Regions from separate parts of the Homo sapiens genome. Here regions 1 and 2 are each linked to region 3. The links come from fine-mapping of genetic effects on gene expression. A gene starts in region 3. Each other region holds a variant in brackets. All regions are shown on one strand. Distances are from middle to middle. Region 1 overlaps TRAM1 (translocation associated membrane protein 1). Region 2 has its middle 52 kb from the start of TRAM1. Region 3 holds the start of LACTB2 (lactamase beta 2).

What was found. PIP is the estimated chance that this variant, and not a neighbour inherited with it, causes the effect.
Region 1: its variant is the best candidate, but not a certain one, in a credible set for the expression of LACTB2 in monocytes (Fairfax 2014, PIP 0.86).
Region 2: its variant is the best candidate, but not a certain one, in a credible set for the expression of LACTB2 in whole blood (INTERVAL, PIP 0.81).

The regions. Positions count from the first base shown.
Region 1 is chr8:70,568,075-70,576,738 of GRCh38, reverse strand. It overlaps TRAM1 (translocation associated membrane protein 1), which reads left to right. Exons shown (of 11, transcript NM_014294.6): 11 at 1,734-3,521. The coding sequence ends at 1,807. Among named protein-coding and RNA genes, the nearest start is that of TRAM1, 36 kb to the left of the region's middle. The variant A/G (reference allele first, on the strand shown) is at 4,442.
Region 2 is chr8:70,552,548-70,559,549 of GRCh38, reverse strand. No RefSeq gene overlaps it. Among named protein-coding and RNA genes, the nearest start is that of TRAM1, 52 kb to the left of the region's middle. The variant C/T (reference allele first, on the strand shown) is at 3,116.
Region 3 is chr8:70,665,657-70,674,320 of GRCh38, reverse strand. LACTB2 (lactamase beta 2) reads left to right here and starts at 5,136. Exons shown (of 7, transcript NM_016027.3): 1 at 5,136-5,322. The coding sequence starts at 5,201. XKR9 (XK related 9) reads right to left here and starts at 4,982. Exons shown (of 5, transcript NM_001011720.2): 1 at 4,783-4,982.

The DNA of each region.
Region 1 (8,664 bases), 98 kb after region 3:
GCCCTGGATGCACCTCTCACACTACAGCCAATGTCATGGCAGTAGCCACTCCACAGGGGCTGCCGCTGCCATCACTGAGAAGTGGAGGTTGCAGTGAGTGGAGATCATGTCACTGGACTCCAGCCGGGATAACAGAGTGAGACCCTGTCTCAGAAGAAAAAAAAGATAATACTATTGTTCACATTTTCTGTTTCTTAGTCGTTTCTCTTTTGGTAAATAATGTTTTTCAAGGAATTTGTCTAGTTCATATAAATTTGCAAATACATCGGCATAAAATTATTCATATGACTTTCGTTATCCTGTTAACACCTCTAAATCAGGAGTGATTCCTGTTTTTCATTTCATGTTGTTAGTAACGTAAGCCTTTTATCTTTCCTTCCATCAGTCAAAACCAACATTTGTCTTTTTGTGTTGATTTTCCTAGTTGTCTCTTTTCTGGATCATTGATTTCTATTCTTTCCTTTTCATTGGGTTTAATTTGCGGTTTTGTTTGTGATTTACCTTCTTGAGATGGATCTTTGGAGCATTGATTTGTATCTCTTGTGAATTACATTCAGTTAATGGTAAACTTTTCCTTTCAACACTGCTTTAACTGTATTTCACAAGGATTTTTTGTTTTGTTTTGGGGTTTTTTTTTGTGTGGTTTTTTTTTTTTTTTCTTTTTTTTTTAGATGGAGTCTAGCTCTGTTGCCCACGCTGGAGTGCAGTGGCGCGATCTCAGCTCACTGCAACCTTTGCCTCCCGGGCTCAAGTGATTCTCCTGCCTCCCAGGTAGTCAGGATTACAGGCACCCACCACCACAACCAGCTAATTTTTGTATTTTTAGTAGAGATGGCATTTCACCACGTTGGCCAGGCTGGTCTTGAACTCCTGGCCTCAGGTGATCCACCCACCTCAGCCTCCCAAAGTGCTGGGATTACAGGCGTGAGCCACCATGCTTAGTCTGTATTTCACAGGTTTCAATATGTCTTTTTCATTATTATTCAGTTCAATGATATCTGTGCTGGGATTCCACTTGTGCTGTGATTATAGGTGCAAGCCATTGCCCCCGCCTCAAACATCCATTTCTGTATGCAACTTTTGTATTTTTGGAGAGAGAGTCAGTCACACATACGCTACTCCATCATAGCTTGAAGAAGGCCATTACTATTAGCCAGGTGTGGTGGCACATGCCTGTAGTCCCAGCTATTTGGGAGGCTGAGGTCCCCGGGAGCATCACTGGTCCCCGGGAGTTCAAGACTGCATTGAGCCATGATCGTGCCACTACACAGCCTTGGTGACAGAGTGAGACCCTGTCTCAAAAAACAACAGTAACATAAATAAATAAAAAGAAGGCCATAATACACGCCTCCACATAGAAATTATCCTAAACACCAACTTTACTATATTGTAAACAAATATCCCCAAGGACTTCGCTGTCAAATGTGAAAAGTTTCTTTATTTCTACAGAAGGTATTTCTCTTGAATACTATTTTTAAATTCTTGTGACTTTATAGTTTTCTGTGCTGTCACTTTTTTCTGCTTTTAATAGTAGTTTTCTTTTAATTTGCTACTTTCAGTTCATTGTGTTAAAAATGTTACCAGGTTTTGTGATTGGTTAAATACTGGTAAGTAAATTTCACCTGAGTGAATTGGATTTTACATTTTCTTTTCTGAAGGTATCTTTACATATAAAGATTATAACTTGCATTTATTTATAAAAGAGAGTAACATGGATTCTTTTCTTTTTGCAGAAAATGGTGTGAATGGAACATTAACTTCAAATGTAGCAGACTCTCCCCGGAATAAAAAAGAGAAATCTTCATAATGAATTATAAACTAATTGATTAATGTCCCCAAAGAAATCTGCTTTCTACTATATCTTTCAGCATTAGAGATTTTTCTGTTCTTGAAAATACAGTCTGTGCTCTTTGATTTTTGCTATTGTACGGTTTCATGCATTTTTTTAAAGGGCATTTGAGGGGAGGATTATTGCTATGAATGAAAAAAATATTTTAGCTTAGACTAAGCTACCTGCCTTCAAAATAGTTTAGGGACCACCACCATATTTTATTTTGTTTTTATTTTTGAACATTTTTCTAATGATTTGGAGAGAAAACTATTTACAAAAATTCCACATATCAGTGATACAATTTCTTGCTGTCACCAATTTTTTATAATAGCAGAGTGGCCTGTTCTAAGAAGGCCATATTTTTTAAGTTATCTTTCAGGGTAACATGGAAATACTATAAAGTTGGATGTCAAACTTTAATATGTTTTCAGTGTTCTCTAATTTTTTGGAATTTTTGTAGACTTTACACCTGGAAAAAAAGATTTGTAAAATCACCGGAACAATTGTGTGCTTTATTTTATAGGTAGTGGTTATTAGTATTACATCCCCATTTTAAAAACAAAAACATAATAATCGTTACAACACGTGGAGTTTTACTAACATACATATTAAATCAAAGTATATTCTTAAAAGTACTTGTGAAGTAAAATCTTTCTTGTGCATTTTCAATACTTGTAAACTGGAAATCAGAAAATATTTACTATGAACAGGAAAATCTGACATATAGCCCTTTTTGATATGTTTATTAATAATGATTCTTAATGGGGCTCATAATAAGTTTAATATGCACAGCATCTTAGAAAAGTTTAACCTGCAAACACTTTTAAAACATAATGCCTACTTGATTTATATCTATAAAAAGACTGACAGGTAATTATATTTGGAAAACATTTAATGCACTAACTTTAAAGAAATTGAAAATTCAGGTGGATAAATAGTCTTACAAAAGACAATGTGCTTTATGTTATACCTATAGCTTTGGTCCCATCTTTAATTGAGAAACATTTATCTGTATAAAACATATTTTTGGATAAATATATATATATATATTTGTATCTCTACAGAAAGGCTCTAAAAAGCATTTGAGGAAAATATTTGGTTCCCTTTTCTATAATCATCCTTTAAGATTCTTATAGCTACATTTGGTTTATTCATCATATTTACAGTATATATATTGTTCTTTTCAGTGTTCACATCTTGTTCCCCATTTCTCACTTGTGTCACCAGCTGTTTGTGCCATTTTTAGTGTAAAAGTTGCAGACCTATTAGATCTGCAGTTTAAGTTGCCATGCTGCTAGGAAATTGTCCTTTTTCTTTCTAGCTGTTAACCTACTTCCTGGAAAAAGTAGTAGCTCTCTGTAGCATTATGGAGTTTCAGTGGAACCAAATTTTTGCCATTAAAAACTGGCATTATACTGAACTATACATTGAGAAATCAATCAAAATAAAAATTTTTACTTTCACAAGTTGTATCCTGGATGTTTCTGTCATTGTTGGTGTTTAGGCTATTTTGGTATATAACCTCATTAAAATGTACCATATTTAAAACACTTCATAGACATTCAGAATAACCCTTTTCAAAATTGTGTTCTGCAAATAAACAGATTTGTTCCACAGAATATTGGTGAGGACTACTGGGGGGATAGATGGTCATAACCAAATAAATCTGGGAATCACTGGATTAAACTAACCTAAAGGTGTCTCTTTATTATGGGACCGTTCAGTCCTTAATATGCAAACGTGTTTCCTGGTGCACCAAGAATGTTGGATATAATATGCAGTGTTTCCCACCTTATTTGCCTGTAGAATTTTCTGTTCACTGAATTACTATAGCACTTTGTTTTCTGCAGCATACACTGTGTTTAGGCAAAGAAAAAAAAAAGCCCTTGACATGTCATTACCAAGGGCTAATATATACACAGAAGCACATATACACACAAGTATGATTATAAATTATGAGCCCTACATCCTGCTCTCAAATGTGCTGAGGAAAGTCTGTACTGGCTTCCAGATCCTGCAGAGCCTGCCATTATCACCTGGGCTCAAGTCGAGCTTCAAAGCATGATGGGAATCCTGTAGGGACCCACACCTGGACAAGGCTCATGGCTCTGTCTTAAACCCGGGGGGACCATGAATTAGTTGCTTTGCTACTCTGGGGTTTAGTCTTTCCCTCCACAAAATGCCTCCTGCATTTTTTTTAACTGTAAATTGACAATTTATAATTGTACGTGGGGGTACAAAATGGTGTTATGATTTATGAGTATAATGGAATAATTAAGCTAGTTAACATCCATCACCTCAAACACTTAACATTTTTTGTGATGAGAACATGGAAATTTAGTTTTGAAATGTATAATGCTGTTATTAACTATATTTACCATGCTGTGCAGTAGAACTAAAAAATTCCTTCTGCCATATTTTACACCCTTTGACCATCATCTCCCCATTCCTCTCAGCCCTGAGCCTTTGTAACCGTCATTCTACACTCTGATTCTGTGAGTTTGTTTTAGATTCCATATATAAGTAAGTATGTGCCATATTTGTCTTTCTGTGTCTGATTTACTTCACTTAGCATAATGTTCTTCAGTTTCATCCATGTTGTCACAAATG[A/G]CAGAATGTCTTTTTTAAAGGCTGAATAGTATTCCATTGTGTATATATACCCCATTTTCCACATTTTCTTTAGCCATTCATCTGCTGATAGACATTAGGTTGATTCCATAACTTGGTTATTGTAAATTTAGTGCTACAGTGAACACAGGGCTGCAAACATCTCTTCGACACACTGATTTCAAATCTCTTCGACACACTGATTTCAAATCTTTGGGTTGAATTCTCAGAAGTGGGATTGCTGGATCATATGGTAATTCTATTTTAGTTTTTTGAAGAACTTCAGTTTTCCTTAATGGCTGTACTAATTTACATTCTTAACAGTGTATACTGATTCCCTTTTCTCCACATCCTTGCCAACATTTGTTATCTTTTGTTTTTGTTATGATAGCCATTGTGACAGGTGTAAGATGACATCATACTGTGGTTTCAATTGGCAGTTTTTCCATTATGTTTCCTTTAGTAGTGTTACAGTTTCTGGTCTTACATTTAAGTCCTTAATCTATTTTGAGTTGATTTTTGCATATAGGTAAGATGAAGGTCCAATTTCATTCTGCATGTGGGTATCTAGTTTTCCTAGCACCATTTATTGAAGAGACTATTCTTTTCCCATTGTATATTCTTGGCACCTTTGTGGAAAAGCAATTGACCATGTGTATACCTGGGTTCATTTATGGGCTCTCTATTCTGTTTCATATGTACTTGGTGTTTTTGTTTGTTTGTTTTGCAAGTACCATGCTTACTTTTGTTTTTTAAAATATATACACAGGGAGCCAGGGGTCTTACTATATTGCCCAAGCCAGTGTCAAACTCCTCACCTTGAGCGATGCTCCTGCCTCAGTATCCCAAAGTGCTGCGATTACAAGTGTGATTACTAACACTTTTTTTTTCAATAGATTTTAGGGAACAGATGGTTTGGGTCACATGGATAAGTTATGTGGTGGTGATTTCTGAAATTTTGGTGCACTTCCCACGTGAGCAGTGTACAGTGTACCCGATGTGTAGTTTTTTATACCTCACTCCCCTACTATCCTTCCCTGAGTCCCCAAAATCCATTATGTCATTCTTATGCCTTTGCATCCTCATAGCTTAGTTCCCACTTGTAAGTGAAGATATACGATACTTGGTTTTCCATTCCTGAGTTACTTCACTTACAAAAATGGTCTCAAGCTCCATCCAGTTTGTTGCAAATGCCATTATTTTATTCCTTTTTATGGCTGAGTAGTATTCCATGGTATAAATATACCACATTTTCCTTATCAACATGTTGGTTGATGGGCATTTAGGCTGGTTCCATATTTTTGTAATTGCAAATTGTGTTGCTATAAACATGCGTGTGCAAGTGTCTTTTTCATATAATGACTTCTTTTCCTCTGGGCAGATACCCGGTAGTAGGACTGCTAGATCAAATGGTAGTTTTAGTTTATTAAGGAATCTCCATACTGTTTTCCATAGTAGTTGTACTAGTTTACATTCACACCAGCAGTGTAAAAGTTCCCTTTCACAACATCCACATCAACATCTATTTTTTTTTTTTAATTATGGCCATTCTTGCAGGAGTGAGGTGGTATCTCATTGTGGTTTTAATTTGTATTTCCCTGACAATCAGTGATGTTGGGGATTTTTTCATGTTTATTGGCTATTCATGTATCTTCTTTTGAGAATTTTCTATTCATGTCCTTTGCCCACTTTTTGATGGAATTTTTTTCTTGCTAATTTGTTTGAATTTGTTGTAAATCTGGTTATTAGTCCTTTGTTGGATACATAGTTTGTGAATATTTTCTCCTACTCTGTGGGTTGTCTGTTTACTCTGATTATTTCTTTTGCTGTGCAGAAGCTTTTTAGTTTAATTAGGTCCCATCTATTTATTTTTTCTTTGTTACATTCGCTTTTGGGTTCTTGGTCATGAACTCTTTGCCTAAGCCAATGTCTAGAAGAGTTTTTCTGATGTTATCTTCTAGAATTTTTATGGTGTCAGGTCCTAGATTTAAGTCTTTGATCCATCTTGAGTTGATTTTTGTATGAAGTGAGAGATGGGGATCCAGTCTCATTCTTCTACATGTGACTTGCCAATCATCCCAGCACCATTTGTTGAATAGGGTGTCCTTTCCCTACTTTATGTTTTTGTTTGCTTTGTTTAAGAACAGTTGGCTGTAAGTATCTGGCTTTATTTCTGGGTTTCTCTATTCTGTTCCACTGGTCTGTGTGCCTATTTTTCTACCACGATCTTGCTGTTTTGGTAACTATAGCCTAGTTTGAAGTTGGGTAATGTGATTCCTCCAGATTTGTTCTTTTTCCTTAGTGTTGCATTGGCTATGTGAGCTCTTTTTATGGATCCGTATGAATTTTAGGATTGTTTTTACTAGTTCTGTGAAGAATGATGGTGGTATTTTGATGGGAATTGCATTGAATCTGTAGATTGCTTTTGGCAGTATGGTCATTTTCCCAATATTGATTCTACCCATCCGTGAGCATGAAATGTGTTTCCATTTGTTTGTGTCATCCATGATTTCTTTCAGCATTGTTTTGTAGTTTTCCTTATAGAGATCTTTTACCTCCTTGGTTAGGTATATTCCTAAGTTTTGGGGGTTTGTTTGTTTTGCAGCTGTCATAAAAGGGATTCAGTTCTTGATTTGATTCTCAGCTTGGTCATTGTTGGTGTACAGCAGAACTACTGGTTTGTGCAATTGATTTTGTATCCTGAGATTTTACTGAATTCATTATCAGATCTAGGAGCTTTTTGGATGAGTCTTTAGGGTTTTCAAGGTACATGATCATATCATCGTTAAACAGCAACAGTTTGAATTCCTCTTTACTGCCTTGGATGCCCTTTATTTCTTTCTCTTGTCAGATTGCTCTGGCTAGACTTCCAGTACTATATTGAATAGTAGTGATGAAAGTGGGCATTCTTACCTTGTTCTAGTTCTCAGGGGAAATACTTTCAACTTTTCCCCATTCAGTATAATGTTGGCTGTGGGTCTGTCATAGATTGTCATTATTACCTTGAGGTATGTCCCTTCTGTGTCAATCTTGCTGAGGGTTTTAATCATAAAAGGATACTGGATTTTGTCAAATGCTTTTCTGCATCTATTGAGATGATCATATGATTTTTGTTTTTAATTGTTTATGTGATATATCGCAATTGTTGATTTGTGTATGTTAAACCATCCCTGCATCCCTGGTATGAAACCCGCTTGATCATGGTGTGTTACCTTTTTGATATGCTGTTGGAGTCAGTTAGCTAGTATTTTGTTGAGGATTTTTCCATCTGTGTTCATCAAAGATATTGATCTGTAGTTTTCTTTTTTTGTTACATCCTTTACTAGTTTTGGTATTAGGGTGATACTGGCTTCATAGAGTGATTTAGAGAGGATTCCCTCTTTCACTATCTTTTATAATAGTTTCAGTAAGATTGGTACCAATTCTTCTTGGAATGTCTGATAGAATTCAGCTGTGAATCCGTCTGTTCCTGGACTTTTTTTGTTGGCAATTTATTTTACTACTGTTTCAATCTCACTACTTGTTATTGGTCTGTTCAGAGTTTCTGTTTCTTCCTGATTTAATCTAGGAGGGTCGTATATTTCCAGGAATTTATCCATCTCCTCTAGATGTTCTAGTCTGTGTGCATAAAGATGTTAATAGTAGCCTTGAATGATCTTTTGTATTTCTGTGATATCGGTTGTAATGTCTCCTGTTTCATTTCTAATTGAGCCTATTTGGATCTTCTTTTCTTGGTTAATCTCGCTAATGGTCTATCGATGTTTATCTTTTCAAAAAAATAGCTTTTGTTGCATTTATGTTTGTTTTTGTTGTTGTTTCAATTTTATTTACTTCTGCTCCAATTTTTGGTGTTTCTTTTCTTCTGCTAGGCTTGGGTTTGGTTTGTTCTTGTTTCTCTAGTTCCCTGAGGTGTGACTTTAATTGTCTATTTGTGCTCGTTCAGACTTTTTGATGTTGGCATTTAGGGCTATGAACTTTCCTCTTAGCATTGCTTTTGCTGTATCCTAGAGGTTTTGATAAAGTTGTGGCACTAATATTTTTCAGTTCGAATAATTTTTAAATTTCCATCTTGATTTCATTGTTGGCCCAAAGATCATTCAAGAGCAGATTATTTAATTTCCATGTATTTGTATAGTTTTGAGTGCTCTTTTTGGAGTTAATTTCCAGTTTTATTCCACTGTAGTCTGAAAAGATACTTGATATAATTTTGATTTTCTTAAATTTAC
Region 2 (7,002 bases), 110 kb after region 3:
TCTGTGTGATTAAATGTCTGTACCACAGTTTTCTGTGGTAATAACACCTACTCCACAAGATATGAACATGAACTGTGCATAGCCCTATGCCTGATGTTTATTAAATGTTAGTTGCTAGCTCATAAGGTTGTGACAAACACAGCAGTAATTGTCACTGCTGTTACCACTTTTCTGTTTTATGTTGAAGTTTCACAACACTGTTCAGCATTCATGCCATGCAATGCAAGCACAGTGTTCCACGACTCTACTCTGGAGCAGATGGGCCAATAAAGTTGCAAGAAATGTTCAAGCCAACATTACAGCCAGCAAAGTTACACTGAATCATTGGATGACTGTGCAGGCATGCTTCACCAACACAAACATTCATAAATCAAACATCCAAGTCTGTGCTGAATCATTTATACCTATGTGATATAATAATTATAAAAGCGAGTTGTAGGTATGGTTTCTAAGGAATGACTTTTTAAAGTCAGATATCTATGGTTTATGGGGCCATATTTCCATTTAGCTGATGTATATAACTTCTAGAGAATTTTTGGCTGCTTGGAGTTGCCTAACCTTCCAGTGTAAAGAATCAAACTTCATTAGGTAAATGAGAACGTTACAACACAATGTTTATCATGAAGTTTGAACTGATATCATAAAATGTCCTAGAATTCACATTTCTCCAAGTGGGCTGGAAGGCCTGGATGTGACAGTACATGGGGCATCCACATGTAAGTGTGGGTCATGTGTGAAAGAGTGAAATCTGAAGACTAAGGTACATACTCTGTTGTGTCCTTGCTGATTGCCTTCTGAACTAATCCTTTTCTCTTCTTATATCAAATATAAGAAAATACGGCCAGGCACGGTGGCTCACGCCTGTAATCCCAGCACTTTGGGAGGCCGAGGCAGGTGGATCACCTGGGGTTGGGAGTTTGAGACCAGCCTGACCAACATGGAGAAACCCCGTATCTACCAAAAATAAAAAATTAGCCGGGCTTGGTGGCGCATGCCTATAATCCCAGCTACTCAGGAGACTGAGGCAGGAGAATCGCTTGAATCCGGGAGGTAGAGGTTGTGGTGAGCCAAGATTGTGCCATTGCACTCCAGCCTGGGCAACAAGAGCGAAACTCCATCTCAACAACAAAAAAAAGAAAACACAGTAAAGTTACTTATGAGAACAATTATAATTTACCTAGCTCTGTCGCTCAGGCTGGAGTGCAGTGGCGCCATCTCAGCACACTGCAACCACCACCTCCTGGGTTCAAGCAACCCTTTCACATCGGCCTCCAGAGTAGCTGGGACTACAGGTGCACACCATTACGCCCAGCTAATTTTTGTATTTTTTATAAAGATGGGGGTTTCACCACGTTGCCCAGGCTGGTCTCAAACTCCTGCGCTCAAGCAATCCACCTGCCTCAGCCTCCCAAAGTGCTGGAATTACAGGTGTGAGTCACAGCACTTGGCCTATAATTTAATTATCAATGCAATTTAATCAACCTCATCTAAGTCACTAGTGACCTCAGGATCACCTATAGTGGTCCTTTTCCATTTCAAAGGAATGACAACATACAAACAATGTGACACCGGTTATTTGTCACTTAGGTCTGAAGGGAAAATATCTATACTGTATATACTAAGTAAATGAAAAATTAAGTATGGTTTTTAAGAAGTAAATTCAATTCTGTAGAATTAAGGCCTTGAAGACTACCAGGAATATGTTACAATGATTGGTGGTTGTATCCATTTGTTTTGCATTGCTATAAAGGAACCCCTGGGGCTAGGTAATTTTTAAAGATAACAGGTTTATTGGCTAATGGTTCTGCAGGCTGTACAAGAAACATAGCATCATCATCTGCTCAGCTTCTCATAAGGCCTCAGGAAGCTTTTACTCCTGGTGGAAGGTGAAGGGGAAGTAGATGTGTCACATGGTTAGAAGGGGAACAAGAGAAAGAGGAGGAAAGTTCCAGTCTCTATAACAACCACATCTCACACAAACTCATTACTTTGGGGAGGGCACAAAGTCATTCACAAGGGATCCACCCCCATGACTCAAACACCTCCCAGTAGGCCCCACCTTCAACATTGGAGATCACATTTCAACATAAGATTTGGAGGGGACAAATACCGAAACTATATCAGTGGCTTACCTACACCCTAATACATGTAGGAAGCTTTAAAAAATTCAAAAGAGATGTGAGGCTGGGTTCAGCTTCATCTTCAAAGAGAAATTCCATAACTGCAGAATCATCAATCATTCTCTGGGAACAGAAAGCCCTAGTTGAAACCTAGAAGTCATTTCTTTGTTGATATGGTGAGTCAACTCTGTCTCAGTGCAGAAATACTGGTTCGAAGGAATGAGATGGAGAAGGACAGATAATTGTTAGCAAAAAGAAATCTCTTTCTGAAGAGATAATACTCTGCAGTGATTTTCATTGAAATTTACAAAACATCTCTAAATATTGGCCTTTATACAGTAAGCTCAGGCTTATTCTGCTATTATATAGCAACTTAATTTTGCATGACCTGTGGTGGCGGGGTTTTTTTTTAATTTGTTTTTATGAAGGATCAAACAGAATAAGGAATTTTTGTTTGTTTGTTTGTTTTGAGACCAGGTCTCGCTCTGTTTCCCAGGCTGGAGTGCAGTGGTGTGATCACAGCTCACTGCAGTCTCAACCTCCTGGGCATAGGTGATCCTCTTGGCTCAGCCTTCCAAGTAGCTGTGACCACAGGTGCACACCACCACACCTGGCTGATTTTTTAACTATCTGTAGAGATATAAATAATTTGCAGATGTCCCTATGTTGCCCAAGCTAGTCTCGAACTTCTGGACTCAAGTGATCCTCCTGCCTCTGCCTCCCAAAGTGCTGGGATTACAGATTTGAGCCCCTGCGCCAGGCCAGAATAAAGAACTTTAAAAAGCAATGCCATCTTGTAACTTCAGGTTTAAGTAATCACTGCTCTCCTTGTTTTACTGTATTTTGATGAGTATCAACATTCCGATTACAGTCCGGCATCTCTTAATAGGCAATGCCAATCATACCCCATTATATATTGCTGTGGAGTAAATACTCAGTAGGGGCTACTGCAATCACCAGCCTAATTTTCCACTCACACTCCATTCATGTCAGCA[C/T]TTTAGTCTCCAAAGGTAAGAGCAGCTGTATTCGTTATACTCATCAACCCAGCTGCTCTTATTTGTTCCTTTTCTTTTTTTTTCTAATGTCCCCACTTCTCTACTAAAAGAAACACTTTTGCCCTGTGATTTTTTTTTTCAGTTGGTTACTTCAGCTGATCTTTATGTCAGCTGATCCTTATGCAGTATTTGCCCTTCCATCTAAAATTGTGTTCTTACATACCACAATTTCCAGTTCCAAAGAGGAGACCCCCACACTGCTATGGTTTGCTCTGACGGAATGGCCAAAGTGGGGGAACAAGTTAAAAGTGGGTCCAGAACTTTGCTCATTTATATGAAAGTTTGGTCTTAAAAGTATTGGATCAATAAAAGTATTAGAAATTAATTTCTTCTTGATATTTTTAATTGCCTAAAAAAACAGAAGTTATCAGTTGCATGGGATGTTTTGTACTTAGTGATTCTCATTTCAGAGAAGCTTAGTTTTAATGAGTTCCTATCCGGAAATGCTCTGACTCCCCTTCAGTTCTGCAAATGTCTGTTCCTGAGAGGATGGTTCACATTAATTACAGTGTCTCTTCATCTTCCCCTGCATGCAGCAGGGTTCAGCACCTTGCTTTTGAAATGAACGAAATGGGGAAAGGATGCTTGCCTTTCATACATCCTAGTATTATATATAGCACAGGACCTCTCCTACCTCAGAGTCCCCACAATAACCTCCCACAGCCCAGTCTTTATCTTCCACAATCTTATTTATTTTGAGGCAGGATCTCACTCTGTCCCCCAGGCGGGGGTGCAGTGGTATGATCAAGGCTTACTGCAACCTCCACCTCCCAGGTTCAAGCGATCCTCCCACCTCAGCCTCCTGAGGAGCTGGACCTACAGGCGCACATCACTACGCCTGGCTATAAATGGTGCATTCTTGCTGTGACAGCAAGGACATGGCAGAAAGGACAAGGCAGCTCTCTGGACCTCTTTTATAAAAACACTAATCCCAATCATGAGATCAGAGCCTTCATGACCTAATCACCTCTCAAAGGTCCCACTCCTAACACCATCATCACCTCGTGGGGGTAGGATTTCAACATATATATTTGGGGGGCATGGTGATATAAACATTCAGACCATTGCTACAAGGATACTGTATTTTCTTTTTTCTAAATGTGCTCTCTTCATACTTTAGCATTTCTGAAATAAAAATGGGTCTTTCAGTAGCAAATTTCTCTTAGTGGCCTACAGCATAAAGACTTTTTTTTTTAACCTGATTGTTAGGGTTTAAATGTTTGTCTCTTCCTAAACTCATGTTGGAATTTAATTTCCTTTGTAATAGTATTTAGAGGTGGGATCTTTAAGAGGTGATTAGGCCATGAAGACTCTGCCCATATAAATAGATTAATGTTAATATGGGAGTGGGTTTCTGATGAAAGGACAAGTTAGGTCAGGCATGGTGGCTCATGCCTGTAATCCCAGCACTTTGGGAGGCCAAGGTGGGAGGACTGCTTGAGCCCCAGAGTTCAAGACTAGCCTGGGCAATATGGTGAAACCCCACCTCTACAACAGATTAAAAACATTAGTAGGGCATGGTGGCACATGCTTGTGGTCCCAGCTACTCAGGAGGCTGAGGCAGGAGGATGACTTGAGCCCAGGAAGTTGAGGCTTCGGTGAGCCATGGTTGTGCCACTGCACTCCAGCCTGGGTGACAAAGTGAGACCCTGTCTCAAAATAAATAAATAAACAAATAAATAAATAAATAAATAAAAAGACAAGTTAAACACCTCTATTTTTCTCTCCCTCTCTCTGTCTCTCTCTCTCTCTCCCTCTCTTTGCCTTTATGCCATGGAGTTATACAGCAAGAATGCCCCTGCCAGATGCTGGACCTTCAGTTTTGGACTTCCTAGCCTCCAGAACCATAAGCCAATACATTTCTGTCTATTATAAATCATCCAGCCTGTGGTATTCTGTTATAGCTTCACAAAGTAGACTAAGACACTGACGAATTCTTAGATTGCATGAAATTCAGTATATATTGCTAATATTTATCGATGGATAAGTCCCAGTTGGTATTTTATGTGCTTTACCCCCATCATTTATAAACTCCACAAGGATACCTTGAATAGTTGGGGATCATCCTATTAACACTGTTTTATAGAAATTGAATCTCAGAGGGGTCAAGTGACTTAGTAAGTGGCAAAGCCAGGTTTTGCACATGTCTGTGGTGGAGCCTCTGTTCTTCACTGTGTCCTACCACACAGTCTGGCAAAACAAGGACAAGACTGCTTAGAAGATGTACAAAGTCCTGGCGTGGTGGCTCACACCTGTAATCCCAGCACTTTAGGAGGCCGAAGTGGGTGGATCACCTGAGGTCAGGAGTTCAAGACCAGCCTGGCCAACATGGTGAAACCCTGTCTCTACTAAAAATGCAAAAATTAGCCAGGCATGGTAGTGGGTGCCTGTAATCCCAGCTACTCAGGAGGCTGAGACAGGAGAATCACTTGATCCTGGGTGGTGGAACTTGCAGTGAGCCAAGATTGAGCCACTGCACTCCAGCCTAGGTGACAAAGCGAGACTCCATCTCAAAAAAAAAAAAAAAAAAAAAAGAAGATGCACAAAGAGGTCGAACATGGTGGCTCACGCCTGTAATCCCAACATGGATAACCTGAGATGAGGAGTTTGAGACCAGCCTGGCCAACATGGCAAAACCCCGTCTCCACTAAAACTACAAAAATTAGCCGGGTGTGGTGGCAGGCGCCTATAATCTCAGCTACTTAGGAGGCTGAGGCAGGAGAAATGCTTGAACCCGGGAGGTGGAGGTTTTAGTGAGCTGGGATCACACCACTGCACTCCAGCCTGGGCAACAAGAGTGAGACTCTGTCTCAAATCATTAAAAAAAAAAATAGAAGTCACAGAAACTAAGCAAGAGGACTTCAGGGAATGAATGGTTGGCAGTGCCAAAAGTTTCAAAGAAGAAAAAATACAAAGCCTAAAAAAAGTTCATCAAATCTGTTTCCTAGAAAGCCATGGGTGCCCTCAGTGAAAAAGAGCAACAGGTGTCACCAAGGGGTTCCCTCTGCCTCACTTTCACGCATTTTTCTCATGCACCTAAGGTCAAGAGGATTGGGGGTTGGGGTGGATCTTTGTCTGGTCTGGTCCCCCGTGGGCAGCAGATGCTGGACTCCTCCGAGCACATGGGAAGAGACTGTGAGTGTTTTCCTGGCACTGACAAACACCAACTCTGGCCTGTAGAAGACCTGGATGGGAAAAGTGTGGGGAGGGTCGCTGGGGTACTGGGACATGCCCAGCACTTCCCTCACTGGGATGGGGAGGGACTGCTTCCTCCTCACTGGGAGCTGAGCCAGGACCTTTCAGGCATTGCTGCAGGCATGAGTTTTGAGGACAGAGTTTCACACAAATCTGCCACACAGGAGAGGGGGTGATGAATCCCCAATGGCTGGATGTGCTCATATAGGCCTACAGCTTGGGAATGCCCGCAACAGGGCACCTGAGAAAAGAGGACCCCAGACAGGGTGCCCTTTCCTCCTACTGCCTGGCAGGGCGGACCCATGAAGAGTGCAGCAGCTGCTGCATCTGGAGACTGCCACAGCCTGTGCCCCCGACCCAGGAGTTTTGATCATTTCACTGGTCATGCCTCAGTTACTAATATAAGTCAGTTCTTGCCATTGAAAGTGACTTTGTATGGCCTACAACTGTCCTTGCAAGCTATAGGGACCTGCCTGAGATTATATCCTCAGGAAGGAAAAGATGTAGCCCATAGAGTAGGTTGGGAGGGACAATGAAACTAAAGTGGCTTTGATCCAACCCTGTCAAACCCAATTCACTCAATACAAAGGTTACAAGCAAGAATTAGAAGAACAAAAAAGCAAAACAAAAGA
Region 3 (8,664 bases):
AAATTCTGTCAATCCTTTAAGAATCAGCTCAAAACCCACCATCTTTAGGCTTTCCCAGATCATCCCAGTATGTTTCTCCCCTTTCTCCTTGCAATCTCATCACTTCAGCTGTACTTCTCTTCTAGTATTTACCCACATATGCTTTTTTTTAAGAGACAAGGTCTTGCTCCATCACTCAGGCTGGAGTGCAGTGGCACAATCATAGCTCACTATAACCTCGAACTCCTGGGCTCAAGCACTCCTCCAGACTCAGCCTCCCAACAGTGCTAGGATTACAGGCTCATGCCACCATACCTGAACCCATATATACTTTAAAAGTATCTCCTTCATGGTTATGACCCTCTAGAAAGCAAAGATTATCTTATTCATTTTTAACATGCCCTCAATATGTCTACAACATTACCTTGCATGTTGTAAGTAGATAATAAACTATTGTAAGTGTAACTGAACAGAACGTGAAAAATATTTGATCTGATTTCTTGGAGAGGAACTTAAACTTCAAGTCACATTTCTAAACATATTCACAAAGACTTAATTTTGTATCTTTTTTTTTTTTGACATGGAGTCTCACTCTGTCACTCAGGCTGGAGTGCAGTGCCGCGATCTCAGCTCACTGCAACCTCCGCCTCCTGGGTTCAAGTGATTCTCCTGCCTCGGCCTCCCAAGTAGCTGGGATTACAGGCACCCGCCACCATGCCCACCTAATTTTTGTATTTTTAGTAGAGACAGGGTTTCACCATGTTGGTCAGGCTAGTCTCCCAAAGTGCTGGGATTACAGGCGTGAGCCACCACACCCGACCAAAAAATATATCTAACTGTCCATAGGTTTCTTTACCTGGATATACCACAATTACCTCAATTTTATCTCATCTAAAACATAGTCACTATCTACCTTCTATTTGTACTCTTTTTCTAGTATCTCCTTGTATGGCCCTATGCAAGTTGCCTTACTTTTAAATCATTTGGCCTATTCCTTCATCTGCCAAATGAGGAGCTTGGCAATTGATTAAATGGAATCCAGAAGGAAAGTGCAAGTGAAAGTTTAATTTTTAAAAAAAGCTAATGAAGCTGGACCTTGTCTCTCATCATATGCAAAAGCCAACTCAAGAAGGATTAAACGTAAGACCTTAAACTATAAAACTACTAGAAGAAAATATTGGTAAAATACATAAGGACATTGGTTTAGGCAAAGATTTTGTAGCTAAGACCTCAAAAGCACATACGACTAAAATAAAAACAGACAAATTTGACTATATTAAATGAAAAAGTTTCTGCACAGCAAAGGAAACAATCAACAGGGTGCAGAGACATCTGCTGAACAGAAGAAAATATTTGCAAACTATTCATCTGACAAGGGACTAATATCCAGAACATACAAGGAACTCAAACTCAACAAGAGAAAACACAAATAATCCCACCAAAAAGAGGGTACAGAACATGAATAGACGATTCTCAAAAGAAGACATACAAATGGCCAACAAACATATGAAAAAATGCTCAACATCACTAATCATCAGGCAAATGCAAATCAAAACCATAATGAGATATCATCTTACCCCAGTTAGAATAGCTGTTATTAAAAAGACAATAACAGATGCTGCAGAGGATGTAGAGAAAAAGGAACTCTCATACACAGTTGGTGGGAATGTAAATTAGTACAACCGCTATGGAAAACAGTACAGAGATGTATAAAATACACACACACACACACACAGAACTACCATATGATTTAGCAATCCCACTACTATTTGTATATCAAAGGGACAACTGCACCTGCATGTTTATCACAACATTATTCACAATAGGAAAGATATGAAATCAACCTAAAAGTCCATCAACAAACAAATGGATAAAGAAAATGTGATATATACACACAATAAAATACTATTTGGCCATAAAAAAATGAGATCATATTTCTGAGGGCTCTGTTCTGTTCCATTGATCTATATCTCTGTTTTGGTACCAGTACCATGCTGTTTTGGTTACTGTAGCCTTGTAGTATAGTTTGAAGTCAGGTAGTGTGATGCCTCCAGCTTTGTTCTTTTGGCTTAGGATTGACTTGGCAATGCGGGCTCTTTTTTGGTTCCATATGAACTTTAAAGTAGTTTTTTCCAATTCTGTGAAGAAAGTCATTGGTAGCTTGATGGGGATGGCATTGAATCTGTAAATTACCTTGGGCAGTATGGCCATTTTCACGATATTGATTCTTCCTACCCATGAGCATGGAATGTTCTTCCATTTGTTTGTCTCCTCTTTTATTTCCTTGAGCAGTGGTTTGTAGTTCTCCTTGAAGAGGTCCTTCACATCCCTTGTAAGTTGGATTCCTAGGTATTTTATTCTCTTTGAAGCAATTGTGAATGGGAGTTCACCCATGATTTGGCTCTCTGTTTGTCTGTTGTTGGTGTATAAGAATGCTTGTGATTTTTGTACATTGATTTTGTATCCTGAGACTTTGCTGAAGTTGCTTATCAGCTTAAGGAGATTTTGGGCTGAGACGATGGGGTTTTCTAGATAAACAATCACACGTATGTTTATTGCGGCACTATTCACAATAGCAAAGACTTGGAACCAACCCAAATGTCCAACAATGATAGATTGGATTAAGAAAATGTGGCACATATACACCATGGAATACTATGCAGCCATAAAAAATGATGAGTTCATATCCTTTGTAGGGACATGGATGAAATTGGAAACCATCATTCTCAGTAAACTATCGCAAGAACAAAAAACCAAACACCGCATATTCTCACTCATAGGTGGGAATTGAACAATGAGATCACATGGACACAGGAAGGGGAATATCACACTCTGGGGACTGTGGTGGGGTCGGGGAAGGGGGGAGGGATAGCATTGGGAGATATACCTAATGCTAGATGACACATTAGTGGGTGCAGCGCACCAGCATGGCACATGTATACATATGTAACTAACCTGCACAATGTGCACATGTACCCTAAAACTTAGAGTATAATAAAAAAAAAAAAAAAATGAGATCATGTCATTTTCAGCAACATGGATGGAACTAGAGATTATGATAAGTGAAATAATCCATGCATAGAAAGACAAATATCACATATTCTCATTCATACGTGGGAGCTAAAAAGTTTATCTCAGCCAGGCATGGTGGCTCAAGCCTGCAATCCTAGCACTTTGGGAGACCAAAGCAGGAGGATCACCTGAATCGCTTGAGTTCAAGAGTTCAAGGTTACAGTGAGCTATGATAGTGCCACTGCACTGCAGCCCGGGTGAAAGCCAGACCCTGTAAGTAAATAAGTAAGTTAAGTAAGGAAATTAATTAAGCCAAAGAATAAAAGAAGGGGAGTGCCCAGATTCTCAGGAATCTGGTCCAGAAATTACTGTTCCATCCTCTTCTCCAGGGTTCACTGACTTTCCAGCAGAGTTCTTAAAAAGGGAAGATGTGCAAAGCCTCCTGCCTGAATAGCCATTAATTGATGGCTATCATAAATACATATTGACAGATTGAAATGCCTGATGTAGGAGATTTGGTTACTTTAAGTATTTTTTGAAGGGTATACTGTTTAACTTCCCATTGCAACAGGGGATAACTTATATGATTATTTCAGCGATGATTTTTTGAATATTTTTCCATTAAAAGTACAACTGTGTGAAACAAGGCAAAGACATTTCTCACACACAAAGCAGATGTCATTAGCCACTCTGATACACTATGCTGCTGATTCATAAAATAGGTAAGAGCAGATCGTTTTCTTCATCAGAAATATCTGGAAAAAAAAAAGCCACCAAGCACTGTATGTGTCAATTTCTCACCTTTTTTTAAAAAAAAAAAGAGTGGGCTGCTACAGTGGATATGTTCTACATCTCTTTGGGGCAGTGATTACATACAATTGTCATAACTCGATGGAACTGTCTACAGGATCTGTGTATTTTCTTTTAAGTAATTTATAACTCAACTTTTTTTATGGGAAGCTGTAGTTAACACTGGATAGTTAATACTTGGCTGATAAGAAACCGACTTGTTACAGAGAAAATGAGTCCCTTCCATCTTGGGCACAAAACGGCTCCACAAGACCAGCCTAGCTCTCTGGGCAGGCAGGTAACACTGGCAGGCAGAGGCATGCTCCTTGAATCTCACTGAGGGGGACAAGTGTTAGTGCGAGGCAGGTAGGAGCAAGGCCGCACACGCAGACTCTGTCATCTGGGCAGCTGCCCAATCCCCGTTTTTCATTTGTAACAAAAATAGTGTCCACCTCTTAATAATGTTCTGAGGATTAAGGGCGTTAAGTCGGATGTTTGTTGAAAGCACTTAGGCATAGTAGGAAGTACTAAGTAAATATGTCTTACCACTATTTATTATAAAAGATGAACAGGCTGGCCCGGCGTGGTAGCTCACGCCTGTAATCCCAGCACTTTGGGAGGCCGAGGCGGGCGGATCACGAGGTCAGGAGATCAAGACCTTCCTGGCTAACACAATGAAACCCGGTCTCTACTAAAAATACAAAAAATTAGCCGGGCGTGGTGGCGGACGCCTATAGTCCCAGCTACTCGGGAGGCCGAGGCAGGAGGATGGCGTGAACCCGGGAGGCGGGGCTTGCAGTGAGCCGAGATCGCGCCACTGCACTCCAGCCTGGGCGACAGACCGAGACTTCGTCTCAAAAAAAAAAAAAAAAAAAATGAACAGGCTACTACTACTACTACTACACACACACACACACACACACACACACACACAGAGCCACTGCCTAAAAATCTGGCAATCCTTCCTGACATTTATTACTGAATAACGAACGGTTACCAAACCTGTCTCCCAAATCACAAGACTCTTCCAGATTAAAATGTCTCTCGCCCACTTGGATCCACTCGCCTGTCTAGGACACAAACCCGTGAGGCACCAGCCCCCGTGACAGAGGCAGATTCCAGCTTCGCCTCACGCCACCTCACGCCTCGCGCCAGCCTTCCCACCACTGCCCGCGCAGCCCGCGCGGCGTCACGTGACCTCTAGTTCCGCACCGCCCCCCCCACCCCCCGGCCTAGCTGCCGGATCCCCGCCCCGGCTCGTCCGCGGTGTCACATGACACCTGGACCAGCCGCTGGCCAATCCCCTCCCTCCCGGGTTGCGAGGCATCACGTGGACGCTACTCGCTATCCCCGGCCTGTTGGCTTCTTCCGCGCTGGAGTATCCAGATAGGCGACACGCCGGCGGGCGGCTGAGGCGGGAATGGCTGCTGTACTGCAGCGCGTCGAGCGGCTGTCCAATCGAGTCGTGCGTGTGTTGGGCTGTAACCCGGGTCCCATGACCCTCCAAGGCACCAACACCTACCTAGTGGGGACCGGCCCCAGGTAAACGTCCCTCTCCAACCTCCCCAACGTTCGCAGCCGGCCCCGGAGCCCGGGCTTTGACTGATCGCGGCTGCGCGGGCAGTGGAGAGCGCCGCGTCCTGTCCCTAGCTGGGCAGCCCCGCGCCTAGCAGCCCCGTCGGGACTGCACGCAGACACTCGGATCTCGAAGCTAGCTAAAATACGACCACCCCAGGTGATAGCTCTCTAATTTAGGGAGAAATGGAAAAAAAAAAAAAAAAAAAAAAAAAAACTTCTGTTTTGAAACCCGATTTACTGTTCTTGATGTTTGAATGCCAGGGTGTGCGTGTTTAAACTGTTGAGAAAATTCGGATGTCAAGAGTCCAAGAAAGCGTTTACTTTGCTCACTTGACTTTCACTGGTGTTTTGCCCAGAGTGTAACTTCCCTTCTCAAAAGCGATTAATTATGTTGAGGCGATTTCCTCAACTCAGCAGCAGAGGGCAGGATTCTCCTGGCTTCCAAATTGGTTCTCTGCAGCCTGTGGGCTCATAAGAGGAGCTGACATAAGTAATTTGGGGAAGTTTTTTGTTACAATTGTGTGTGACCTTGTTTGAGTTTAATTTGCAGACACAGTAACACACCTGTATTTCTAAGAAGATACTTTTGCTCTTGTTTAGCTGCATTCTGTTTTAGTGGAATTATGCAGGAATGGGAGATTTGGTTTACTGCATAGTAAGTCTTAGGCATTTAGCAACTTTTGTAGTCTTTACTGGATGAACCCAGATAATGTAGTTTCTCTTGAGCATAGAATTTAATTGTGCAGTCAAGACATAAATTATTTTTAAAATATAATTGATTACTAAAAACGATTTAGTAAGTACAGTTAATTGAGTTTTCCTTGGAAGTGTCTACTGTTTGGCGTTTTTCCAGTAAATAAGAATTTTAGAAGCAGCAGACCTGCAAAGTGGGCAGGTAAAAGATTAAGTTCAGAGTAAATAAGGCAGGGTCAGGTAGTTACCAAAGGTTTAGGCTGCCACCAGAATCTAGGAGGATAGAGAATTAAGCAGGAAAAATGCCAGATCTCTAGGGTACAGTCTGTCTTGGCTGGAAGTCCCTCAACCAAGTAAATCCATAGGCGGTCTCTCTACAGTGTGTCATCTTGAACTAGTCAATACCTCAGACAAAAGATGCATATTATCAGAATTACCCTGGAAAGTCTCTTAGAAGAACACCATGTTGGAGATCAGTGTATTGTCTCAGTAAGTTCAGCACAACCTGCCTTTTTTCCAGCGTTGAAACAGATGGCTGATTCTGTTTGAAAACCAGGTGAAGAAATTGGCTTGTGTTGAGGGGCTATATTGTATGAAAAATACATACTGTATCTTTAAACACTATAATCACACTCAACATAGCAAAGTGCTAGTGCTAAGAGAGACTTAAAGACTAACTGAGGGAAAAGCAGATTTATAGTCTCTCGTCTTAAATTACTTAACACTGTTGCTCACATAAATTAATGGAGTGGAATGGCCAGTGGAATTACTTGCACTATGTAAATTATTTCTCCATATAGTTGAACTAGAGAGTCCGTATAGTTGAGCTAGAAATAAGTGTAGATAATGCTACTGTATAAAGTAAAAGGTGTAAAGTAAAAGGTGGCTAGAAGTTAATATTAATTGGCCCCTTGTCAGATGTTCTGAGATTGGTATCCACCTGTTCCGCTTCACAAAACAGTTCTAAGATCACAAGCGGCTTTTGTATCACTAACCCCAATGGTATTTTTCTGTTCTCATCTTCCTTGAACTTCAGTGCTTTGACACCATTGACGACTCCCTCCTTAATTTGCCAACACCACATTCTTCAGGTTTCCTATTACCTCTTGAGCTGCTCTTTCTCTTTCACCTTGATAGAGTCATCTTCTTTATCAAATCTTTAATTATTTTAGTTATTCAGTATATAATCCTCATCTCTCATGTTCTTCTACTGTATTCTCTACCTAGGTGATCTCATCTACTTATTTGGCTTTGCCTTTATTATCTGTTTATTATTAACTACCAAATATATAGCTCAAGTTCAAATTCCAAACTTGATCTTCAGACTCAAGTAGCCAACTTTTAAATCTATTTGCATGACTCACTGCTGCCTGGAACTCAGTGTTTTCCATACTGAACTCATAACCTTTCCAGAAAACTGCCAGGTCCTCCTTCAGTTGTTCATATCTTGATAAACAAAGCCATCAAAGGAAATGCCTAAATACCCTTCCTGACATTTATTTGCTTCCTACTGCATATCCAAGCCATTATGAAGATCTGTTCATGTCCCCTGCTGTCACTCAGTCCAAGCCAGCACAACTCTTGCTTAGGCTACTGTAATAGCCTCCTAATTGGCTTCTGTACGACTACCTCTGTCTCTCTTCAATCCAATCTTCCCTTTGTAGCCTGAGTGGTATTTTAGGAATTAAAACTGGAAGGCCTTGTGTATTCTGGCCTCCATCAGTCTTATCAGGCTCCTCTCAAACCTCTCCCACTCCAGCCATGCTGGCCTTCTAGTGTCTCAGATGAGGTTTGTGATTCCCTGTCTCAGGGCCTTCACGCATGCTTTCCTCTTTCTTCCACTCATTCCTCCCTTCTTTACCCAGCTAATCTCATTCATCCTTTAGAGCACAGTTTAAATACCATTTCCTCATGGAAGTCTTCCCTGACCCATCAGACTGTATTAGGGACACTCCATACTTTTCATGGTCCTTATCTCAATGATAATGAAATGATTTTTTTGTGCAAGAAGCTTAGTGTCTTTCCACACCTTCATACCCCACTATAACATCAGTTCAGTGAAAGCATATTCATGGCTATATCCCCAGCACCTAGCACAGAGCCTTGTACACAGTTCAGGTAGAACAGTAAACAGTTGCTGAATGAATGAGCATTCTGTACATTTTCTCTTAATTTTCACTATTATGACTCCAGAACTGCTGGATAACTACAGTTTTAGCTGGTCTTCCTTCCTCATCTGATCAGCCCATGGAAGCCAAATGAATTTCACTAAAACACTGCTAGACCTAACTGTGATGCTTAGTACATAGGTACTCAATAAGCATTTGAATCAACAAATGACAGCCAAATTGTCCAGTGTTTTTACTTTCCTCCTCTGCTCAAGAACCTTTAAAAACTGCAATTTTAACCTTTCCTATCAAAATTGTACATACTTTGTGGGCAGACAGTGTGGCTGATAATAGAAAAAGGTAGTCAAGTGGAATAGAATTAAAACTCTGGACTCTGGTTACCTCGATTAGAATCCTGGTGCCATTTACTAGCCATATGACTTTGGACAAGACAGTTCTAAGCTTCAGATTCCTGATACAACCCAATGAAGGTTGTGTAGTACCT